Linked DNA regions of Homo sapiens: region 2 is linked to region 1. The links come from fine-mapping of genetic effects on gene expression. A gene starts in region 1. The other region holds a variant in brackets. All regions are shown on one strand. Distances are between the middles of the regions. Region 1 holds the start of IQSEC1 (IQ motif and Sec7 domain ArfGEF 1). Region 2 overlaps IQSEC1 (IQ motif and Sec7 domain ArfGEF 1).

Region 1 (16,231 bases):
AGCTGCTGTGGAAAACAGTATGGCGGCTCTTCAAAACAGTCAGCATCCAATCACAATCTGACCCAGCAATCCCACTTCTGAGTATACACCCAACAGAAATGGAACCAGGGACTCGGAGAGGTATTTGCACACCCATGTTCACAGCAGCACTATTCACAACAGCCAAAAGGCAGAAACAACCCAGTGTCCATCAATGGGTGAATGGACAAACAAAATGTGGTCCATCCGCACAATGGAACAGTGTTCAGCTTTAAAAAGGAAGTTCTGCCCATTGCCGCAGCAGGGATGAACCTTGAGGACATGAGGCTAAGTGAAGTAAGCCAGTCAGGAAAGGACAAATGCTGTCTGATTCCACTCACATGACATCCCCAGGGCAGTCATATTCACAGGGACAGAGAGCAGAATGGTGGGTGCCAGGGGCTGGGGATGCAAGATGGGAGTCTGCGCTTACAGAGCACAGAGCCCTGTTTGGGAAAGTGAAGTTCTGGAGATGGATGCTGTGTTGGCTGCACGGCACTGTGAATGCACTTACTGCCGCTGAAATGTGTGTAATTAAAAAAGGCAAACATGTGGTCGATCTGCACAACGCAACAGTGTTCAGCTTTAAAAAAGGAAGTTTTCTGTCTATCTTACCACAATTTTAAAAATGGTGATTTGTACCTTGTCAGGCCAGGCCCCTCAGGGATGCTAGAAAGCAAAGGCAGGACTTCCGGGCAGCTGGTGACAACAGAGGGGCCGGCACTGTGTCTGTCACAGCGAGGACTCGCCACGCGCCATGCGGGAGCTCTATGAGGGGGCCCATTTGCCTGGGGGAGTCAGGAAAGAGGCACAGGCTGGGCTGTGAGGTCTGAGGTGAAGGGGAAGAAGGGCACTCCCGGCAGAGGAGCCAGCATGGGCAAGAGTGTGGCAGGGTGAGCCTTCCAGGCAGGGCTGGGCAGGAGTTGGAACGTTGTGGGATCGTGGGAGGCCAGGAGGACCAGGAGAGAGGGCCTCAGGCCCCAGAGCGGCTGAGGAGAGAGGGGTGTGTGCAGGAAGGGGCGCCCACTGCCCCACCCCGTTCTCTTCCCAGCTGTATCCAGGAGCCGCTCTGGCAGGTGCCACCAGGTCTTATTTACTGTGTCCCTTCTCTGGGCGGTAGCTCCATGCAGGCAGGGCGGGCCTGGTCCATTTACAGGCGTAGCCCACAGGCCTGGCGTGTGTCAGGACGTGGACTAGATGTCCAGTGACCATGGTGGGCTGAGTGAATGAATGGGTGAGTGATCGGCAGGATGGGGCCATGTGAATGAGCCAGCATGCCTGGAGCTGCTGTGCCTGGCAGACACCACTCCTCCCACTCCCAGTCCCCTGTGTGTCGCAGCATAACCAGGAACTTTCCAGATGAGGTCAGAGGCCCAGAGAGGGCAAGCAGCCTGCCCAGGGTCACATAGTGAGGCAGGGACAGAGCTGGAGTGGAGCCTCCTTGTCCTGCTCTGTAAGGCCCCAGGTGGGCCAGGGCCTCAGAGACCAAGGGGCAGGATATTTTCATCCACTCTGCCTGCAGGGAGCCTCCTGGGGGTAAGAGTGAGATTTGAGAGAACAGGAGCCATCCAACAGGCTGGAAAGAGCGGGAAGGGCAGACGGGGGCTGTGTCGTCAGTAGGCTTTTGGGGGAAAGCAGCAGGCTCTAAGGTAAGCCTGGGAGCAGCTTAGCCAGCACCCAGGAGCAACGCCTCCTAAGCCCCCACTGGTGGTGACAAAACTGGTCTGGTCCACAGGCATTGGGTGGGGGGCTCCCAGCCACTGTGGGACAAGTACCCTCAGCACCCAGGACAAGCAGGCTGGGGGCAGCCATGCCACAGTGGCAGTGACCAACACATTCCAGGTAGTGCATGCAGTGGGGAAGGGGTGGGGAGGGACAGAGCCTTGCGGCCAAGAGATCTGGAACCTGCTCAGGGTAAGGCGTCAGGTCCCCCAACACCTGGGCCCCCTGACCACCCTCCTTCCCTTCCTCATCCCATCTCTGTGCACTGGGTGCCCACTGGCCCCACCCACAAGGGCACACAGATCTGGCTGGGGAGGAGCAGGGTCTGGAGTCAGGCAGACTCACTGGCTGTGACCCTGAGCAAGGCACTTCCCTGGAAAACAGGATGGCACACAACCACCCTGCCAGAGTTGTGGGATTCAACAAGATAAGGCACTTTTGTTGTTATTCTTAAAGACCAAGTGAGTCAGTGCAAGGAGGCAGGCCAGGGCCCTGAGGAGATGGTGCCAGGTCCTTTAGGGGCACAGGGGGCCTTGGGGGGCTTCAACAAAGGGCCTCCAGGGAGGGACAAGGATGGCGTGACACTTGTTGAGCTTGGGGCCCAGCCTGCTTGCTGGCCCGCAGGCAAACCCTGGAAGGGGAGTATCAGCCCCACCACATAGAGCAGGAGGCTTAGGCCCAGTGCCTGTGCTTGGGGCACTTGGGAAAAGATGCTGACCATGGGCTGACCAAGGCCCAGCAGGGTCCTGCCCCGGGGCTGGGGCCAATCCAGGCCTTACGCTTCCTCTGAGGCCCAGGGAGGATGTGGATGTCGGACCTGTCCTTCACGGATCCTTTGGTGGAAGATGGTGGCAGGTGGGTCAGAGGTAGGTGCTTGCCTAAGCAGACGCTACTTGTTGCCCTGCCTGTCCAGCAACTACCAGAAAAGTCTGTTCCTCTCAGTCTCTAAAATTCACCCCAGACAGGGTCTCTAAGTCCCAACATCATGCCAGGCCATGCCAGCTTTGGGTATACAACGGGGAGCAGGCCTGGGCCCTGGCCTTGCAAAGGGGCAGAGGCAGTGGCCAGGCCTCTGAATTTTCAGGCCCCAGGCTCATGACACCCCCTCATGGTTGGGAGGCCCCAATGCAGTTCCCCAACCTCTTTAACCCCCAGTCTTTTCTTCATATCTTTAGCTTCCAGCATGACGATGTGACTCTTTACTCCAGGGCCTCCATGAACAGCCCCAGCCCCTTTACCTCTCTTCTTGGTCCACTCTGCTCCAGCAACACCATCCTCCCTCTGTGGCCCAATCCTGTCAAGCATGCCCTCACCAGGGCCTCTGCACTTGCTGTCCCCTGCACCCGGGGCCCCCACTCTTCTCCTGGATAGTTCCTCCTAATCATTTAGATTTCTGTTCAAAGGTCACCTCCTCCAGGAAGCCCTCCTCACTTCCTGAGTGGCCACACAGTTCACTCAATCCATTCCCATTGGGCTCTCTATCTTCTTCATTTCTCTGTGTCCTTCTCCCCTGCAGTATCCCCTGAGAGCAGCACCCTCTCAGTGGTTCCCAGCACTGAGCTGGACATACAGCAGGTGCACCATGAACACTAGCTGAAGGCAGGGAAGTGAAGGCCCAGGCCTGGTTATGCGGCCTTGGCTGCATATCCCAGTCTTTCTGAGTTATAACCAGGACCTGCCCAGTGGCTTCCTGGGGCTGTAAAGGGTGGATAGATGCTACAGCATTCTTGGAAAATAGCCCAGTGCTGTGTGGGTCATTCATAATAACCATTTTTAATAGTGATCACTGCATGGCAAGAAAGGCTACCGGTCATCACACGTGCTTGAGTGAAGACTGGGCCTCCGGTTCCCTCCCTGCATCTCTCTCGGTGGGCTGGGGCTGCTCTTCCCTGGCATCCAGCCCAGGCCCACTGTCCAGCAGATGCTGATAACTGTGCCTGCAGAACTGACCCAGCCAAGGTGATAATGGTGAAGGCTCAATGCACAAGTTTCTTGGAGGTGTGTGTGTGTGTGGAATGTTCCAGGCCCAGTCCCACCAGTGTCCCTTCTTCTGTCTAGGGGAGACCCACCAGGGCTTCGCTTCCTTCATGAAGGCCCCACTGCAAGCAGCAGGTCAGGGCATCCCACCAGAGGGAGACCACTGCCTCCTGCGGGGGCCGGCAGGTCATCATGTCCCCCAAACAGAAGGAAGAGAGGGGTCGGGACAGTTCCAGGCAGTGAATGAATGATTGAACAGGCATGGGTAGGCGAGTGCTCCACTGGCCTGGCCAAGCAGCCCACATCTCACACACCACAAACTCCTCACAGCCTCACTTCCTGTGTTCAAGTGACAGGATGTGACATGCCCATGAGGACAGAGGGGCCCCTTGCAGAGATGATGAAAAGGATGCTGTAGTTACAGAATTGAGGGCCATCCTTCATTCAGACACCATTCATGAAGCTGCCAGTACAGCAATGACCTCAGGTGTTAGCAAGTTTGATTCAGGGTCTGATTCTTGGAAGCCTCCTGATGTTCCCCCATTGGGTTAAGAAATCTTCTCCTGCTTTTGTTGTCATCCTTTATCCCATCCAGTGTGCCACCTTCACGATGGACTGAGCCCTGACCGGGACAGAGTCTCGATTCCATAAAGCTCCCTTGGGTGCACACCAGGGGCCCAGAGAGTGGAAGTGGCGAAAATGGAGGCTAGGGAGTGAGGACAGTGGGGTGGGGGTGGGGGCCCGCCGGCAGGGCTCCACTAGGCTGAGGATAGCCTGGCTGTGCCATGCACAGGGCCGCTGGAGCAAGTCTGTCCCGATTTGACATGTGGCATGCTGGGGAAGGGACACCACTGCCAAATGTACGGCAGGAAACAGCTGTGTGACCCCAGTCAAGTTCCTTCCCCTCTCTGAGCCTCAGTTTCCTCTTCTGTAAAACGGGATCGACAGTATCACATTTTACAGCAGTTGGTGAGACCCCATGAGGCAACTAAGCATGAGAACGCTTTGCAATCAAGTTGGGCAGCTCTGATAGTGGCTACAGTGCAACTGTTGGGAAAGTTAAACATCTAGAGATGCTCAACACCCCATCTCCTTTCCACACTGAAAGGCAGGGTAACAATAAGGTCTGAGCAGCAGGTGCTGGGAGAGCCTGGGCCTAGAAGTGGGCCTGCCGCGGGTTCTGGGTGGGGAGTAATGGTGGGCAAACACAGGCTTATCAAGTGCAGCAGGGTAACCTCAGGAAAGGCCTGCTCTTGGTTACAAGATCCTTGCGTACAAACAGAGCCACCCCCTCCAAGTATCTTTGGTATTTCTGGTGCCAATAGGTTTGGTGGCAGAGCGGGGATGGCCTGGGAGTCACAATGCTCAGACTGGGAGCCTGAGAGCTGGAGAAGAGTGAAAAGACCCACAGAAAAGAAAGACAGTGAGCGCTAAGCCCCCTCGGGCCAGCCCCTCTCTTAGGCAGGAAGGCTAGACGAGCTTATTCCAGGAATCAGCAAATCCACCAGAGCCACGTGTTCAAATGCAGGTGGCTGGGCCCCCAACAGATTGAAGCAGACTCTCCAGGGAAGAGTATTGGAATCCATATAGAACATTGTCCCTGCAAAACTGCAATTGGATAGGCTTGGGCAACGCAGCCACAGTGAATAGCTGCATCACGGGAACATCAACCACACCTGGACATTAAAATCATCCGGAAAATGAAAAAGATCCTGAGGCTTGAGCCCTCCCCCAAACCTAGAAACCAGAATGTCTGGGGGTGGGACCCACACAGTTTTTTTTTGTTTTTTTTTTTTTGTTTGTTTCTTTAACTGCTCCTCAAGTGATTCCAGTATAGCTCCTGGGCTACAACCCCCACCCCAGGCTAGTATACTCCAGGGTTCCAGTAGAACTGTGCTGAGCCTCAGTTTCCCCATCTCTAAAATGGGGTTCTTAGTGCCTGCCCAGACAAGGCCTTTGTGAGGATGACATTTCTGAGCATTGGAGGCAAGCAGGCACTGGGCCAAGTAATCTGAATATGAATTGTCACATTTCATCCTCATGACATCTCCCCTCCCCGATGTAACAGCCCTGAGAGTTTAGAATTTCTCTGGCATCAGGCTCCTGGGCCCAGGCAAAGGTGTGGCAGGGAGGAGACAGCTGTCTCAGGAGGACCTATTCCCAGCCACTGGGGTGGAAGTTCCACGCTGGGAAAGGATTTACTATTTGTTTCAGAAAATGCAGCGAGGGCCTTGCCACAGGGAGTGAGAACTTTGGTGTGCTCTGCTCGCATCGACAAACCAACCTGTGAGCTTCTCCACTAAAAAAGCAAGTGAGCATCACAGCGAACCAGAGGCCACCGTCATCCCTCGAACCAGAGGCCACCGCCATCCCCCAAACCAGAGGCCGCCATCCCCCGAACCAGAGGCCACTGCCATTCCCTGAACCAGAGGCCACTGCCATCCCCCAAACCAGAGGCCACTGCCATCCCCCAAACCAGAGGCCACCGCCATCCCCCGAACCAGAGGCCACCGCCATCCCCCGTGGGTTGCCGCCTGGCACTGCTGACGCAGCAGAGGCAGAGGTGTGTTTACTTTCCCTCAGTGGAGGTGACGGGGAGCTGCCACTCTATCAGGGGTTCCACAGGCCCCTGCCATGGTAAGGGGCCTCCATCGATTAGGGAGGCCTTGGGGTAGCCCCCAGAAGGCTCCCCACATACTGCTCCAGGCCTCCTTTTCCTAGCCTTGCGACTGAGCCCAGCTCAAGAGGACTCAGCCATGCTCTCTAACCTCCTAAGGTCTGAGGTCACTGCACAGCCCCAAATGAGTGGGTCCTGGGCAAATAGTTTAGGCAGGTGGAGACCTGACGCTGGGCCTCAACCCCCGCAGCCGAGGGTCCCAGAGGAGGGCAAAGGTTGCTCCTCCTAGAACAGCACAGTGCAGCGCCCAGAGAGCTGTGAGGGAAGCTGGCATTCGAACCCCACTGCCCCCTGGGAAGCCTGGCTAACCGAAGCGCAGGCTTTGGTTTCCATAAATACCCGGGCCCGTGATGTCACCGCCCCGTGCAGACTTTCACAGCCTCTGCTGCTGGCGTGAGGCCCAGCACACAGCCGCTCTGCTGCCAGCCCACAGAACACCTGGGCACACAGCTGGACACTGATGCCTCCGTGCTAGGGACGGTGGGCTGGACCTTCACCTGCCCTTGGAGGACGCAGCATCCTGGCCACTGCCTCAGCCTGCCTGCGACCTTCTATCAGGCATGGCTGAAGGGCTGGCCATGGGCGTGCTGGGCAGAGATTCTCTTCCTAAACAGGCTATGGGCTAAACCAAAGCCAAAACAGTAGGAGCCGGTCTGGGCACCCTGAATGTGGATCTGGGAGGGGGGATACCTGCTCTCACAGTTGGGAATTTCACAGCCTGCTGAAGACCTGCTGACTAATAGCCTTTTTCTCATCGTCATCACCAACAAACACCTCCGCTGCAGGGGCCGAGCGCCGGCATCCCTGCTGGGTGGCCAGCTCCCTCTGCAAGTCACCTGCACATCCACCTGCCCCTCCCCCAACGATGCCCCTCACTCCAGCTCCCAGCTCAGCCGGGCCCCTCTGGCCTCTGGCTTCAGGCAGAAACCTGCCACATATACTCACAAATAGCGTCTTCTGCAAGCCATCCTGTGTGAATCCGTTCTTCCCTGTTCTGGCTCCCTCTCCAGCGGGGAGGCTCAACGTGTTTCCAAGAGGAGCAGGCGGCTCAGGCAAGAAGTGGAGGGGAATAAAATTAAATCGCGGGGCGAGTCACATTCCCGGGGGTGGCGGGCTCCTCCAGGGAGGCTGGGGCGGGAGCGGGGGGCGGCGCCAGCAGCGGGCTGTGGAGGGCCCTGGCACGTAGCGCGCGCTCACACCGTGCCCAGGAGCGAGCGAGGACGTCGAGTAACCGTGGTCGCCAGGCTGGGCGGGGGCGTCCACCTCGCTGCTACCTGGGCCCACCTTGGGGTTTTTCCCTCCCGTCCATCCGGGGTGCGGGGCGCGGGGATGAGGAGGGGAGGGTCGAGAGAAGGCTGCCCCGGGTTTGCTCTCGCAGCATCCGGAGAAGGGGCGGGCGCGCCGGAGCCTCCCCCACCCCCCGCGCCCAAGGAGCAACGTAGTGCGGCCGCGCCGGACCAATCGCCGAGGCGCTGGTCGCCATGGCAACAGCAGCATCAGGCGCGGCCGCTCGGCTGCGCCCTCGCGGCAAAGTCACACACCCGGCGGGGCGCGGGGCGCCGGCCCCTTCCTGGCCCGCGCTGGAAACCTGGAAGTCTGTTGCTAAAATGCACGCGCCGCGCGGAGCCTACGATGACACTACTTTCCAAGGCGGCTTTTCTGCCTTCGGCACTGAGACACGCGAGCCGCGGAGCTCTCGGGGCTCTGGCCCTGGAGTGAGGCCGGCCGACTCCAAGGCTGTCTCTGCCACTGAAGGGCGATGAGACCTTGGCAAGCCGCGTCTCTCCTGGGAGTCTTGATTATGCTACTGTGAAAGGGATCATAACAGCTATACCACGGGGTTCCAGGAGGGCGCACCACGCCAGTAGCTGCACGGTGGATGGCAGAGCAGTCCTCGTTTGTGCCAGTCCTGTCCCAAAGGGGGCTGCACGTGGCTAGGGAGAATTTCTGGTCTAGCTATGGTGCCTCTTCCTCTCCCGAGGACCTTCCATGTGCCGGGCAAGTATCTGCCCTCATGATGTTTACAGTCTAAGGGGAAGCCAGGAAGTAAGTGTGCAGATATAGGATTGCACGTGGTGATAAGGATCAGGATGAAAAGAGAGCAGGAAGAGGGGAGGCAGGGACCCCAAGAGAGGCGGGAAGGAGGCTTCTGCCATCAGACGGGGTGGTCGGGAAGGCCCTCTGTGAGGCACGTGTGGCTGAGACTCGGATGACGCAAGAAGCAGGGGAGGAGCTGGCGTCAAGGCTCTGAGGCGGAAGGCAGCCTGGTGTATTTGACTGGCCCAGAGGAGGCCAGCGTGGTGCAGTGTGCGACAGGGAGGTGGAGGGGAGAAGCGCACATCCATCCTCGGCTCCCACACCCGCCTTTCCCACACAGATTTCTCTCTTCCTGTCTGATGTTCATCTGATCCTCTCTGCTTCCTCATCTGTAAACCAGGAATCCCAGACCTATCTCAGAGGCATGTAGATAATATTCTTCCGTGCACGGTAATCCTCAAGACAACCCCAATGAGGCCTAATACTATCATCCTACTTCACGGGGGAGCGCATTAAAGCCAGAGGTTCAGCAACTGGCCCAAGCCACATAGCTGGCGGGCAGTCTGGCTCCAGAGTCTTGGTTCTTGACTGCTTGAAAGCTGCCTCACTGGGAGGAATAAATGAGAGAGGGAGTAGTTGAGACTGGGAATCGGCTGGATGTGGATGGCAGCCCACAGGGCCATTTCCCTTCCTCTTTCCATTCTCTCCAGATTCACACTCACCGAATTTAGAAGGAGTGATGCTGCATCCTTGAGTTCCATTCCATCCTTTACAGGGGAGGAAATGAACCTCAGGGGGTGAGCGATTTGCCTAAAGTTGCACAGCAAAGAGTGGCAGAGGTGGGACTAGGACCCCAGTCTTCCAGCTCAGTGTCCTGGTAGGGAGCAGAGGTTGGAGCTGCGGCCTCAGGTGGCCAAGGTGAGGCATCGAACAGAACTGCATGACGCTTCCCGATCTGCCCTCTCCAGGTGAATCCATATGCATGACCAATCTTCCTGTAGCACGGACCTCCCTCCCTGAGTCATGTGAGGAATTCATATTTCTGTGGGTTAACATGTTGCAGAGCCCACCCCACCCCTCTCCTCACTGGAGTTTCAAAAGATTTTAATAACATCAAAATTCAGCCACTGCATCAGGAGGGCTCACTTTGTGTCAGGTCCAGTTGTTTCATGGTCTCAGTGAATTCTCAGAAGCGCCCTACGAAGTGAACATAATTACCACTCCTGCTTAGATGGGTTGCACCACATACGGGGGTCTCCCATCAAGGCAGCAGCAGAGCCCAGACTAACTCACAGCCTGGCTCGGGCTAGAGCAATGCCCCTCTCAGCCGCCTTGCTCAACTAGCGATTCTCTTCTCACTTCCATCTTCCAGAGGCGGAAACAGGCTCAGAGTGGTGAATTGGATGCCTTGAGTGTGGAGCACCCAGTGTCCCTTTCCTGGGCTTCCTCTTTTGCTCCCTGGGAGGCCCATGACATGCATCTGCACATCCGTTGCTTCTTCAGCACTTCTTCTTATAAACGTACTCTCCTTTTCCTTCCATGTTATGCTGTTATTTCAAAGCAGAGGAAATGGCAAGGACCCTGGCATTCAGATACAAATGCCAAGATTTTAGGCTTTTACAAAACATCATTTACAGGGCACGTGGGTAGTGCCTACAACCCACCTGCACTGGCGCGGTTTTGATTTCTGACATTCAATATCCAGCGCCGGACCAGGCACAGAGGAGGCTCCAAAAAGCGTGGAGCTGGGATTCCGACTCTGATCTCTGACTACGGAACCCACAAGTTCATCCCTTCAGGCAGTGAGAGGTCAGAGAGTCTCAGAAAAGGGGCGCGCCCACCTGTGCAGGCTGAGCTTCACCTACCTCATGACCCCAAGCCCTCGACATCCAATCTCAGGGCAGATTTGTCAGCCACACCTCCCAGATGCAAAGCCTGTGGTCGTGAGAGGGTCCTGATCACATAAGAAGTGGAGCTACAGAACTCTGGATGGAATTGTCCACTTTCCTCACTTTCGCAGTTGTAACCAGATGTCTGGAGTGGGAAGCAGGGGCAGCCAGCCTTGGGGTTGCTGCCCTGTGACCCTGGTTATATCACAGAATCATCCACCCACTCACCCACCTCTGCAGGCTGGAGACTAAGGCACAGTGGGAACCTAGCATTCAGACAGCGTTTTCATCCCCTGGAGTTTCTGTAAGTGCCCAAGTTCACCCCTGCCCTTGCCTCATCATTGTGGACTGTGGGAAGCCGCTTGGATCAGAAGGTGAGAGCAGCTGCCAAGGGGTAAGTCCAGAAACATCTCACATCCATCTCCCTTCCCTCAACGGGAAAATTTCCACCCTGCAGGCTGGCAGGAACATTCCTGCAGATCGGCTCACTCCTGCAACCTGCGGCCATCTGTCCCCAAGGTGGGAGGAACATGACAGCATTTGGGAAGAGGGAGGACGGAGAAGGTTGGAGCATGCAGTCCACAGATCTGACAGTCACAGAGCTCTTCAAGGCAGGGAGCCCCGAATCCCAGGGATTCAGGATCTTCATCCAGGGCTGGGCAGAAGTGAACCCCCCACCCCCGCTGCTCCGTTCCAACTGTGGAACTGCAAAGCCGTCAACACTCTGACTCTAAATCTCAGGACCACACAGTCTTCAAGTCTGGGGACTTTATTTTCTTTTAGCTGAAGCTTCACATTTTAAAGAAATGAAATCCTAACTGCACAAATGATAAGAAAATGTATTCTCTTTAAACAAAATAAAGCCCCCTTTACCTCCCACCCTCCTAAATCTTATTCCCCGTTCCAATCTCTGCAGAGGTGACCGCTGTCATCTGTTTGGAGTGGATCCTTCCAGAACTTTTTCTATGCATTTATCTACATATATATGCCTATAGAAAATAGGAAGTATTACATAGACCCTAAAAAAAATGGCATCATTTTACAAATTTCTTTCTTTCTTTTTTTTTTTTTTTAAAGACAAGGTCTCACTATGCTGCCCAGGCTGGAGTGCAGTGGCTTTCACGGGAGCAACCATAGCACACTACAGCCTCAAACTCCTGGGCTCAGCGATCTTCCTGCCTTAGCCTGGGACTATAGGCATGCACCACCAAACCCAGAATATTAAGAATTTTTTAATAAAAGATTTAAAATGTGCCAAAAGGCATAAAGATGAATACCGTGAACTCTGATATACCCCTGACCCACTACAAGAAACAGAACATGACGAATATGATGGAAGCCCAGGGTCACCACCTCTGTTAAATCCCCTCGCCAGCCCTGCCCTCCTCCCATCCCCATGGTGAATTCACTCTGTAGTGAATCTCCTGCATAGAGAGGTATCCACAAACCATATAAACACTTGTGCACGTTTTTAAACTTTACATAAGTAGGATCACATTGCATATCTTTTTCTGCAACTCTTTCCCCACTCGGCATTATGTCTGGAAGACTGAATCATGGAATCTCTAAACCACAGACTCTTCCATGCTGAGTTCCCAAATCACAGGCTTTTCTAATCATAGACATGGGCTCGGGCTCTGGTGCTGGGAGGACCTCGCTGGCAGGCTCGTGCAGGGCCCTCCTAACATCTCTGCCCAGCCCCACCCCTCACGTGCAGGTGGCTGACGGAGGGAGGAAGCAGCCGGAAGCAATTATCTCTGGAAATGTGTGTGGGCTTCTGGAAGCCTGGCAAACACCTCCCTCTGCAGCAAACCAAGTATCACTGAGGTGCCCTGTCCCCTGTCTTGGGGGAGAAGATCAGACCCTGGCCCTATAACAGTTGAGCAGCAGTCCTTGATATGCTCCTGAAATGGAGCACATCCACTGCTTCTCGATGCTATTTTGGAGTCCTGGCTGATGGAGATCTGAAAGCCACGAGGGCTGGCATCGGTCCCCACTTGCCGCCTTGCCAGGTTTGCTGCTGACTGTGCCAAGGACGGCCGTGGCCAATGGAGCCTGCTGGGGCCGCGGATGAGTGAGGGAGCTGTGGCCCTGCAGACACTCCCTGCAGGAGCTCACGCTGCACGGGGCCACGCTGGCTGGAGGAAGGGGGCGTGGGAGACAGATGCTGCTTGAGATGCTTCGGCTGCTGCAGGACTCAAGAGTCCTGCTCCCCTGGGGAGAGAACCAGTGAACACATGAGCAGAGGGCACCTAGAGCAGCCCCTGTGCTTCTAAGCCTCTACTCAGGAGCCTGTGAGAGGCCCCTGAAGGATGCAGGGCGGTGTAATGTGAGCGAGAGAAGGCATCATTAAAAAGTGGTGGCCAATGGCAGGACAGGATGGAGCAGCCACAGACACTAAATCAGAGATGCTGGGCCCCTGCGTGCAGAGACAGAGCCCCAGGATGTGGGCTCCCTCCCGCACCCAACGGCTGCCATACCCCTCCTTTCTCCCCTCAAACCCTGCACCTCTCAGCAGGCAGTGTAGCCTGGGGGGGAAGGCCAGGAGCCTCCTCTGCCACCAGCTATGGGATTTTGGAAGGGGACCCCACTGCAGCCCTTCATCTAGATGCCGGGATTAACAGGGCATCTATGTCCACCTGCAGGTGAGAGCTGCGTGAGTGCACACAAGTGGAGCAGTCAGACCAGGGCCCATCCAGCTGCGTGCTCTGCTGGTGTTTGCTTTGCTGTTGCAGTTGTTTTAGAGCCAGGGCAGCTGGAGAGTTCACAGGAGGGACATTCATGGGGCGCTGGAGCCGGAGGTCTGGGCTGGGCAGGGCTGGTGCCTCCCTCTCCCAGCTGCCCCAGGGGGTTCTTCCAAGCCTGGCGTACCTTGTGCCAACCGCCCTTCTGCCCCTACTTCTCACCCTTCCTGTGTTCATATTGGCCTAATATGTTTATCTCAATTTAAAATAATTTTCACTAAAGCAGATCTTTTCTATCAGTATTGTAAATTGTGCATTCCACGTGCTAGTCACTTTCCTCCACCAATAAACATTCAAAGAAGTACGATTTAGAGAGAAGCACTGCTCTCCTGAGGCCCTCACAAGGCCCTGGGTGTCCCAACCTGGCAACTCCTGCACTGATGTTGGGGTGCCAGACAGGATAGGTGCAGAGCAGGGCCGGGCCTGTGGAGGCTGAGTCAGCACAGATGTGCACGTGGAGTTGGGCTGTGTGTAGGGCGGAGGGACCGGCAAGCATAGGCCACTGGCTGCCTGGCCCCATCCCTGTGGCCCTGAGCCTTCCTAAACCTCACGCTCCATCTGCCCAGTCCTGCATCCGTAAGTGCTGACCAATGCTTGCTTTGGGTCAGACCCAGGCCAGGCATGGGAAACAAGGTGAGCCAAGGCCCCATTTCCTGCCTGGAGGAAGGGAGCAGCATGCCTTGGGCGGTGGTGGACACCCAGCAAATTTCCTGCCCAGCCACTTGCCTCCTTCTGGTTGCCGCTTCTTTAATCTCTGGGACTCTGGGGGAGCCAGGACCAGGGCATGACTCAAGCAGGGCTGTGAGAGGCAGGCCCAGAGGTTTGCCAGTGTCGTGGAGACAGAGAACATCCCACCTTGGACCTGAGCTTACCCCTGAGAGATAGAGGCCCCTTCTTTACTGGGGCCCCCATGGGGAGGAGCCTGCATGAGAGGCTGCAGGTTCTCATCACCGGAGCCCTGGGCCAGCCACACCTGAAACCTGGAGGTTATGCCGCCCATATGTCCATTTTACATGAGCCAGTTTGAAGCGGGCTCACTGTCACACAGAACCAAACGTTCTAATGCAAGTACCTTGTAATAGTCACAATACTGAGCGAACATGATCACAGTTATAATATGGTAGAACTGACTGTTTCGATGGAAATGTAGATCAAATAATACTATGTAAGATGAGGGAAGGAGGGGCAAGGTTTTTGAGAAAAAGAGATATAGCAAGGAAAAACAGAAGTTTCCTGGAGGACAAGATGTTGAAACAGAGTCTTGAAGGGTGGCCAGAAGCTTGTTAGGCAGACAGTGCATGGAAAGGTATTGCTTGCAGATGGAACAACATGTGCAGAGGCTTGGAGGTGAAAAGCAGCAGAAAGTCATGAGACAACCTGCCAGGGGTTTGGGCTTCATTATGCGGGTAATGGCATTCCAGGAGGTTTCTGAGTAGAGGAGGGACATGGTGAGGTTTGTGATTAAATAGATCCCCTCATGGGGGAAGGATTAGTGGGGAGAGATTAGAGGCTGGGATACCAGAGGAGAGGTTGGGATGGTGAGTCTGGAGGGAAGAGGTGGAGGCCTGCACTGAGGCATGAGAGTGGGGATGCAGAGAACAGGTGTTTTGGGAGAAGTGTGGGTGGGAGAGGAGAGATGGGGTGGGGACAAGGCATCCACCTGCTCGTCGACTGGGTGGATGGTGGCACCCTTTGTCTATACAGGGACACAGGCAGAGATGCAGGGTGGAGGGAGATATAACCCCTGCCCCCTTGTGAGGTGCCAGGGAGACCCCTGGGGAAGAGTCCAGGAGGCTTTGAGCGTCTGGCTGGAGGCTCAGCCCTGCAGGAGAAGAGAGGAGAGAGTGTGAGGGGTGAAGAGAGGTCAGACAGAGCCCTGGGGACATGGACATTTAAGGGAACAGCAAAAGCCGCTGCAGGGGTGGGAAGAAACCCAGCAGGCATCCTTACCCACAGCTGCCCACCTACCCTCCAACGGCCACTTCCCTGGGCAAGTGCGCTCCCTCCCTGCCTCAGCCTCAGCCTGGGAACTGGGCTGTGCTCCCCAGCCCCCGCCCTGCCGCTGTTCCAGGGGATCTGCCGTCTGTCCTGTCCCGCCACAGTGACTCAGGCCCTGCCCTCCTCCCCGGGGATCTGAGCTAATACAAGAACAACATTCTTAGTAAAAAAGAATCCAAAATAAGGGCTAAGCTTTATGCTCAAAGAAGTTCTTCACAGCATTATTTATAACAACAATAAACAAGCTAAAAGCTCAAACAAATGTTAAGGTAAATGTCCAATATTGGGAGCTGGCTAAAAATGCAAGGTTTCTGCATACAGTGGGATATTATACAGCCTTTAAAAGAGATGTTTACAATGTTTGGGAATAACCTTGATGACTGCGTAAAAAAAAGCAGCTTATATAAGTGCATAGTCAGTATGAATATAACAGCGTGTCCATAACACACAACTAGAAAAACATCTGGAAGGACACACAGACATGCCACCAATAAAAGTTGGCATCTCTGGGTGGCAGAATAACTGGTCAGCTTTATTTATTCCTTCAACTTTATTGATTTACTTTTGTTTTAGAGACAGGATCTTGCTCTGTTGCCCAGTCTGGAGTACAGTGGCACAATCACAGCTCACAGAAGCCTCAAACTCCTAGGCTCAAGCAATCCTCCCACCTCGGCCTTCCAAAGTTCTGGGACTTCAGGAACATGCCACTACATCTGGCTAATTTTTAAATCGTTTATAGAGATAGGGTCTCCCTTTGGCACCTGGGCTGGTCTCAAGCTCCTGGCACCAATGGATCCTCCCACCTCGGCCTCCCAAAGTGTTAGGATTATAGGCATGAGCCACCATGCCTGGCCTCAATTTTCTTTATTTTTCAAAGTTTCTACAACAGGCTTAACAATATATAAAAAAGTAAAATATATTACTACAAAAATTTTTCAGTCATCTAAAAATCACTGAAAACACCAATGAACTAATTCTAAAAGGGAGAGGAGGCTGGGATTCTGCAGGGACCAGTGCACGGGGTGGAGTCGGATGTGGGTTTGAAGCTGGCTCCGACACCGCCTGGCCCAGTGACCTTGGGCGGGTCTTCGCTCCTCTCTGAGCCTGCTTTCCCTCTCTAAGAATCTATTCTGGTCCTCCCGTTCACAGAGGGTTGACGTGAATACCAA
Region 2 (8,817 bases), 56 kb before region 1:
CCTCACTGACCAAGTGAAGCTCAGAGATGGGACCCAACACACCCAAGGTCACATAGCTACGAAAGCAGTGGAACAGAAACTCCCATGAAAGTCTGGGCTTTTTTTTTTTTTTTTGAGACAGTCTTGCTCTGTGTCCAAGGCTGGAGTGCAGTGGCACGACCTAGGCTCACTGCAACCTCTGCCTCCCAGGTTCAAGCGATTCTCCTGCCTCAGCCTCCCAAGTAGCTGGGATTACCGGCATGCGCCACCACGCCCGGCTAATTTTTGTATTTTTAGTAGAGATGGGGTTTCACCATATTGGTCAGGCTGGTCTCGATCTCCTGACCTCAAGTGATCCGCCCGCCTTGGCCTCCCAAGGTCTGGGCTCTTAACCACAGCCTGACCACACCCCAGGCCCGGCTGATAGCCACTTCAATGCTCCCACACGCTGAGTACAGTCCAGATACCCACTCTGCCGGCGGAGTCCCCTCACCTCTTTCCCAGAAGCCACTGGAGTTACACTGGTTGGGATTTTTGGGCATTGGTTTGCAAGTCCATCAGATGGGGCTAATGAGCTCACCCTTGCATGCAGGTCAGAGGACAGCTCACACTGGCCTAGCCCACAAGGGACTCAGGGAATGAAGGCCACAGTGTGGACCCTCCAACCTGCCCTCAGCTGCCTGATGGCCTACAGGTGTTTTCTAATAGGTGACATGTGTCCATTAAAATAAAATACAACCAACCGCTTACCCCTCCTTGCGCCCATCTCCTTCCTCTGCCCTACTCTCCTTCACAGAACATGTCATCCCCATGACCTATCATGCATGCATTGCGTTAGTCATATATTGCTTGACTCCCCAACACCAAGAAGGGAAGGGATGGTTTATCTGATTTATCACCTTTGTACTCTCAGAGACAAGACAGTACTTGGCACACAGTAGGTGCCCAATAAATGTTTGTTGAATGACTGAATTAACAAATGAATGATGTGCATGAAACTCTGCACAGAGTCATGGAGTGCTTAAAGGCTCCTGGTTACACCTGGCCATTTCACAGGTGAGGACATGAGGCCTCAGGATGGGCTCCCCTGAAGTCCCCAGGCAGGCAGCAGGGGCTCTGATCTGCTCTGTGCCTCTGCTGGGCTGGACCGAAATGGGCCTTGAACACAGGTGTGGGCAGCCACCTGGCCAGGCTCCCCAGCTTGAGCCCTGGCGCCCAACAAAGGCAGGTTGCTGCTGGAGGTAGCTGAGCTGGAGGCCAGAGCCCTGGGCTCTGAGCTGTAACCCCTGAACCTGACCTCTTGGGGTCCTTGGGCCAACAGCCCCTGGCTCACTGGGGTCATCAAGCCTCCCCTAACCAGCCTGAGGGGCACTGTGCCCTGGTAAATCTCTCAGTGAGATGGGAACCCAGAGTCACCTACGCCCACAGGGAGATTCCCCACAGAGGCCTGCTTCACCATCTAAGCCTCACAACAACCCCGGAAGGGAGGACTTTCGCTATGGGTTATATGGAAACCCAGGCCCAGAGATGTTGGGACATCTGTCCCATGTCACATGGCTGGGGCACACTGGGGAGCTGGGATTTGAGACAGAGTGACTGACCCCTCAGGGCACTGAGCAGCCTTCTGTCTGCAGCGTGGGGGCAGGGGTGAAGGTGCCCATTGCTTCCTTATCACTGGGCCTCACTTTTTCCATCTGCCACTGGTTGGGCTCCAGTCCTAAGGAAAGGGCTATCTGTCTTGCCTGCCCCCAAGAGCCAGGGCTGGGGTGGGGGAGGCTTGGCTGGGAGTGAGAGCTCCCAGGCTGCTCCCTGAGGCTGGGTCGGTAAAAGCTTCCTCTGACCCATCTGTTGAACTCCCTGATGACCCCAGTGAGCCAGGGGCTGTTGGCCCAAGGACCCCAAGAGGTCAGGCTCAGGGGTTACAGCTCAGAACCCAGGGAACATCCCCCAACACGCTCCCAGCCCCAGGGATCTACAGATCCTCAAGGTTCCACTCTGGATCATTTCAGAAAGATACTGAACTTGTCAGTGGGTCAAGGGGCTCCTGGGGGGACACATACTGGGCTACTGCCAGATGGGAAATGGCCCCAGCGAGCCTGGGGCAGGGAAGACTTCTGCAAGGCAGTGTCTCCTCAACACAGCCTGGGGAAGCCTTGTGTTCCCTCAGCCATAAACCTCCATTTGCTCAAAGTTTATGCACCATAGGGTTGAGGGGGGCAGCAGTGTGGGAAGGAAACACACCAAATATGCTCCAGGAGCCCTGGGCCACTGTGTGACTTCTGAGGGCCTCTGAGGACTTCTGACTTCTGTGTGACTTCTGAGGGCCTCAGTTTACTCGGCTGTAAACTGGGCATTGTCAAGAGTCCATCTTTCTCAGGGTGGTTGTGAGGGCCGTAGGCAGCGACCCAACACTCCCTGCCATCCAGGTGGGCTGCGGGGCCCTGGTTCTCAACCCTAATGGGGCCTGGGGCTGGTCTAACGCGCAGGGGAGCTAAAGAACTTCCCCTTGCGGCTGTGGGGAAACACCTGGTGTTCCTGGGCCCAGGGCGAGCCTGTGTGCATTCCAGGCAGTGAGAAACGGGTCACAGAATACAGCTCTGAGAAACAGTGAAAACTCTGACGACAGCCCCCAAGACCCTCACCACGGCAGGCTGCCCTGACAGTCGCCAGCCCCTCACAGGTTTCTCAGGGCTGCTGAGGTCCCCTCCCCGGGCCAGGTGGGTGGTACTCACAGTCTCAAAGTGGAGGGGGCGGAGGTGTCCCTGGAACCCCAGTGCCTGGCCTGCCTCTGCGGCCCCGGGGGATGAGCTGTGGGTCCATCCCCACAGCAGGTCCTGACGTCTGACTTCCTCCCTGCTCAGTCGGCATCCAGGAAACCACACCCAGGGGAGAGGGTGCCAGGCACCCTGGGGCCCCCGCCCACCTGCCCTCCAAAAGGCCCCCAGGCACTGCTGAGGGGGCTCCTTCCAGGTCTGGCAAACCCAAATGGCTTCACTGGGCAGGCCCCAGTCAATAAATAATACACCCACCTCCCTGGACAGTCTCTGGTGCCTGATCGTGTTTCAGGGCCACTTAAGTTCCAGGCAGACTGCTTTGTTCAGAGTGCCGGGCCCCTTCTGGGTCTCTGGCCACATGGGCACTGCACTGTCACGGAGGGCCAGCTGGAGCCAGCAGCATAAAGTAGTGTGACAGGGGTCCCTGGAGAGAGGGTGCCCTACTTACTTAGCAGCTTGGGCCCAAAGGGGACCCAGGGGTGGTGCCAGGGTAGGGTGGCCAGTCTCGTCTCCCCATGGCCAGGCAGGGCCCCCCACATCCCCCACAGGGGTGCCATCTGGAGAGCCGCCACCAGCCCATCCTGACATTGCCAGTGTCCGGGCCCAGGCCCCTCCTCCAGGAAGCCTCCTCTCCGCCAGGAGTGCTCTGTCCCTGTCTGAATTCCCACTGCAACCGCCAGCCAGTCTGTCTGTCTCCTTCTTTGGGTCTCAATTGTCATCTCTCATCTAAACAGTGGCCGGCCGCCACATCTCAACCGGCCTTCCCTGCCCCCAACGCCCCACCACTCCCTCTCCACAGTCTCATTTCCTCACAGCAGCCCGGGTGACGGTTTTAAAACAGAAAGCACAGCAATGTTACCCAGCCGTGGCTCTCCCGCCCCAGTCAACTTTCAAGCCCTCTCCAGGATCTGGCCCTGCCACCACGGGGACTGCTCCTCCCGCCCTCTCGACTCCTGCCAGCCTCCTCCTCTGTGCTCCTCCTGCAGGTGCACACAGACCTCAGGGTCCTTACACCAGCTGCTCTCTCTGCCTGCTCTTCCCCAAGGTCCTCACAAACTCACTCCACCCTGTCACTCTCAACGCAAGGCCACCACTGCAGACGAGTCTTTGTTTTCTTTTCAAACAGTCTTATTAAGATATAATTCACACACCATACAACTCACCCATTTAAAATGTATAGTTCAATGATTTTATTAATAGTATATTCCCAGAGGGGTGCAACTGTCACCACTATCTATGTTTAGCATATTTTCATCACTCAAAAAGAACCCCTCCCCAGCCCTGGATCACGGCAAACCTACCTCCCGTCTCTATAGATTTGCCTGTTCTGGACATTTCCTAGAAACGGGACCATACGCTCTGTGGTCTTCCGTCTGGCTTCTTTCACTTAGCATGATGTCCTCAAGGTTCACCTGTGCTGTAACACGTGCCAGAACTTCATTTCTTTTTGTGGCTGAATAATATTCCACACTATGGACAGACCACATTGTGTTTATCTATTCATCCACTGACGGCCACTGGGAGAGGCCCTTCTTGACCTCCCCAGGCCATGTGGCTCCCTCTCCCCGATCACTCTGTCATCCCTCCCTGTTTTATTTTCTTGGCACCGATCTTTGCCTGAAGGCATCTTCATTTGTTTATTTTCTCTTTATCATTTCTCTCTCACCTGAACATCTATCTGCTCCAGGAGGCCTGAGTGTCCACCTCACTCACTGCTGTATCCCCAGGGTCTAGCCCGGGGCAGCAAACAATAGGTGCTCAGCAAACTACTTGCTGATCAGCGGAAGAAAGCCTCTTCCCATGTGTCAGAGTGGCTCATGCCCATGCCGCCTTGCTGCTGGGCTCTGAGCTCTCGGCGACAAGTGCTGCCCTGTGGTGCTTGCCAAGAAGAGCCTCACCCACAACTCCGGTGAGGAAACCAGTAACGCAAAGCCTTGGACTCAGGTCCTCCTCTGTGCTGTGGGACAGTGCTCCTCACAGGGTGGGCGCTAGCTGGCTGGATGTGGGAATGGATAGTTAGCACCTGGCACAGTGTCAGGCACAGAGTAGGTCTTCATCCCCTGAACGAAGACTCGATGCAGGGAGAGGGGGCG[G/A]CAGTCACTAGCAGAGATGGGAACCGAGGAGAGGGAGGTGAGGCTGGCAGGGCTGAGGCAATGGTGAGGCCCACGGGTGAAAGGGGAAAGCAGCCATAAGGGAATTTATGTGTGCTCCAGGCAGTGCCCAGAGCCAGAGAAGTGGCGGCTCTGCTCTGCTCTGCCCAGGACCTCCTGCCCATCCCAAACTCAGCTCTGGGCTCTTCCCGGAGATAGACAGCACGAGCCAGGGTGTGTCCAGAAGGCGTGGGTGGGGAGGAGGCTGGTGACCCCTTCCTCAGCCTCAGGGAGTCCTGGTCTCTGCAGGCTGTCCAGAGCTGGGGAGCAGATGGGTTGTGAGGCTCAGAGGACAGGGCCAGGCCACTTCAGTGTGTGGGTGGGTGGCAGCGAGCACCGCAGGAAGGATGGTGCCAGTTCCAAGTGGGAACAAATGTCCTCGCGTCAGAGCTGCCTAGGCATGGCCCAGGCTGGGAGGTGGTGAGCACTCTGTCCCAAGAGGAACGCCCACTGGCCCTCCTGCAGAGGGGCATCAGATGGCTAATTGTCCAGGAAGCTCCCTGGAAGCTCTCAAAGGCTGGCTGCCAGCTGAGCTGTTCACGGCCCTCCTGCCCAGATGCAGCCACGGTGGGAAGGCAGAGGGGGGCAGGGCCAGGGCAGCCAAGGCCACCCCACTCCTTATCAACCAGCACCCTGGGCCCCATGTGTTCCAAGTGAGCTGCCCTGGCCCACGAAGAGGCTCAAACGCCCCATTGGCTCTCAAGGCACAAAACGATCTTTCTTTTTCAATATAATGCCAGATGCAAAAGTGATCTTCCTGCCTGACCTGAGAGGGGCTGTGGATTTATCAGGGCACTGCCCTGTACCCAGAGCAAGGCCTTTGTCTGCCAGGGGCCCAGAGGTGAGTGCCCAGAGAAAGGCCAGCCAGGGAAGACGCAGGGAGGGGAGGGGCGGGGAGCTGGTTAAAGGGTCTCATCCACCCTCCAGAACTACTGTATCCCCACACGCATCTCACAGGCGGGGAAACAGGGGCTCAGGGAGGCTGCCTGTTATACAAACAGCCAATGCCTCAGCAGCACCTACTGCAGCTGGGGGAAGCTTACAGGCATTGTCTCATGGAAGCTTCAGAACGTCTCTAAGAGTCACGTCCACGGTAGGAAGGGGCTGAGCCCAGTTTTGAACTCAGGTCAGCCTGATTTCTGAGCCTGTGTGCTTCCCACTTCATCACGTTATCCCCCTAAGCCCCCACGCTGAGACTCAGAGGACAAGGAGGGGGTGCCACAGCCATGCACCCTGCTGGATGCCAAGCCAACAGAACCCAGTGATGACCTGCCAAGAAGCCCGCCCAGCTGGCATGGCTCCCCCCCAACTCTACAGGCGAGGAAACAAGCCCAGAGAGGTTTAGCAACTTGCCCGAGGGCTGCACATCTCACAACCTACCGTTGTGGGCTCTAAACCCTGGGGTGCCCAGCTCCCAAGCTGTTCTGTCCAGGATACAGCCTGCAGCCAGGATCGTCCCTCTCAGAGTCCTCGGGCCAAAGTTCCAGAGACCCTTCTCCCGGCTCCTTGACTGCGGTCGCCAAACCCCTGGGCAGAGGGCCAGGGCTGGCAGGCGCACAGCTGCTCCACACACACCTCTCGCTTTTCCAGATGTGAATGGGACCCAGCCAGGGGCAACAGGCTCACTCGGAGGGGAATCTGAAGACGCAAGTGGAAAACTATGCGCTGTCCGATCGCAACCCTCCAATCTGTCCCTGTGGCCGCCGGCAGCTCCGCCTTGGGCCACAGACCTGCTGACTCAGGGCTTCCCTGGCAGCCGAGGGGGCTGGGATCCGCAGAGGGCCTGCTCCTGGCTGGCTGGCTGGTTGGGGCGTGGCCTTAGTCCTTTCAGGGGCTCTCAACAGAATGGGGTAGGGGTCGGGAGGGCAGAGTGCTTCTCTTGGAGCCCAAGGCCCATCCTCCCCAGTTAACCACAGGGGCGCCTGGCAGTTATGGGTGCTAAGAGTGGGTTTGGGACAAACCCAGTGCCAATTATGGTGCCCACACCCACCCCACCACTCTCCTCTCATTGGTGGTGAGGAGGCCACCCGCCAGTGCTCGTGACACCCCTGTGAAGCTACCTGTCTATCACCACTTGACAGCCACAAAGCCTCCCGTAAGGCCCCGCCCCACAGCCCCGTCAGGTGGCCGTGCCATTCAATGAGGAGACTGAGGCACAGAGAGGCCAGTCTGCCAGGCTCTGTGAGGCGGTGCTGCTTCTCCTACAGACCATGTGGGCAAACGGCAGCCAAGAGGGAGCGAGCGAATCACCCTTGGACAGGGCACAGCGGGCCTCCCAGTGCCGAGCCCTCTGCATTCTGTCAACAAGCCCTGAGGTTTCCAAAGTGCCAATACCTGGAAACCTTGGGACAGAAGGGGACTCAGGAAAATCCAGCTGTGGTCACAAGGAAAAGCACACGGAGAGCTCACCAAAGTCCAGGACTCACCCGCTGCCTGGCCCAGCTCCCAAGTCACCCACCCAGGAGGTCTATCCCGGGGTCTGGGGCAGGGGCAGGGGCAGGGGCAGGCAGCCGCTGACTCACTCCAGGGCTGAGCTCTGCCTCTCTCCTTTCCCACAGCCAGCCGGCATCCTCATCCCAAGAGAACACTTTAGCCCTCACTGTCTGCCCTGCTCCCTCAAACCTGCCCAGGCCCAAGACCCGCCATTGAGGCTGAGGCCCAGGGCCCCAGGCACTCTCACCCAGCAGCAGAGACAACTATGGCCACTGTAATTATGGTTTCTTATTACAGTGAGAGTAAACTGTGTGGCTGGGTTTCCCCTTTCCCTTTGGCTGCCAGGAAACTTGGCAATTTTTACCCCAACAGAAGAACCTCAGGACCCTGTATATCTCTGTTCTGTTCTATTTTTCTACCCTAGCTCATGACATCCTATTCTAAATTGTGCTTTTTCCACTCCTGATTCTTTTTTTTAGAGATGAGGTCTTACTGTGTTGCTCAGGCTGGAGTGCAGTGGCTATTCACAGGCATGATCATCACACACTACCCTTGAACTGGGCTCAAGCATTCCTCCTGCCTCAGCCTTCCGAGTAGCTGGGACTAGAGACATGCACCACCATGCCTGGCTTCTGATGTTTTTTATTAACTATTTTGTTGCAGGTATTTTCTGTAAGCTGTCACAAGTATTTTGGGAAGGAAGGAAGAAAGGAAAGAAACAAGGAAAGAAGGAGAAATAGAAGGAAGGCAAAAAGGAAGGAAGGAAGGAATGCTTATAAAGTTTATACACCAGAGAGTGAGGGCAGAAAGAAAGAGGGACAATCTTTCAATCCCTTACCTGTTGCAAATCCACCCCTTTAAATAAAATAATATGCCCTTAGGCGGCATCCAAGTACAAACACATCTTCCAAATAGGTGGCTGCCCCTAAGCCCTTCCATATACAAATTCGGGCCCCGTGTAGTTCCCCTTTACAGATGGGGAGACCCCAGCCTTGCCTGAGATCACAAGGGACCTGGCTTCCTGCGCCCTGGTCTCCCTCCTTCTGGCAGCTGCAGAGGCCGCAGCGATCACAGATGGTGTCCCCTCCCCAGGGGGCCAAGGAGCTCTGCTCCACCCTTTCATTCTCACCATGCAGGCGCCATTCCAGATACCCCCACCACCCCCCACAGCTGTCCAGCTGGGGAGAAAGCTCAACGGCAAGGGTCATCGTATCCAACACTGACTGAATGCTGGCACCGCACCGGGCCCTGATCTTAGTGTGTATTACCTCACTGAATCCTCAAAACAATCCTAAAAGGATCTGCAGATGGGAAACTTTGGCTAGAGGTGAAGCCGCTTCACACCACTAACAATGCCAAAGCCAGCATTAAACCTGGGCAGCCTGGTGTCTGAGTCCGGGCTGAGCCCTCAGCCACTCAGTGACTGACGTTTACGGTCACACGAAGGAATCACTACACCAAGCGCTGAAGGGACGCGTGTG

What was found.
Region 2: its variant is fine-mapped to the expression of IQSEC1 in whole blood (INTERVAL, PIP above 0.99).

The regions. Positions count from the first base shown.
Region 1 is chr3:13,065,653-13,081,883 of GRCh38, forward strand. It overlaps IQSEC1 (IQ motif and Sec7 domain ArfGEF 1), which reads right to left and starts at 7,777. Exons shown (of 14, transcript NM_001134382.3): 1 at 7,340-7,777. The coding sequence starts at 7,362. RefSeq lists enhancers at 4,090-4,169, 4,180-4,349, 14,529-15,030, 15,031-15,530 and silencers at 7,693-7,852, 7,973-8,152.
Region 2 is chr3:13,012,867-13,021,683 of GRCh38, forward strand. The region is part of intron 1 of IQSEC1 (IQ motif and Sec7 domain ArfGEF 1); the gene reads right to left. Among named protein-coding and RNA genes, the nearest start is that of IQSEC1, 56 kb to the right of the region's middle. RefSeq lists enhancers at 1,017-1,518, 1,519-2,018, 2,276-3,044, 2,348-2,427, 3,045-3,812 and 6 more. The variant G/A (reference allele first, on the strand shown) is at 4,847.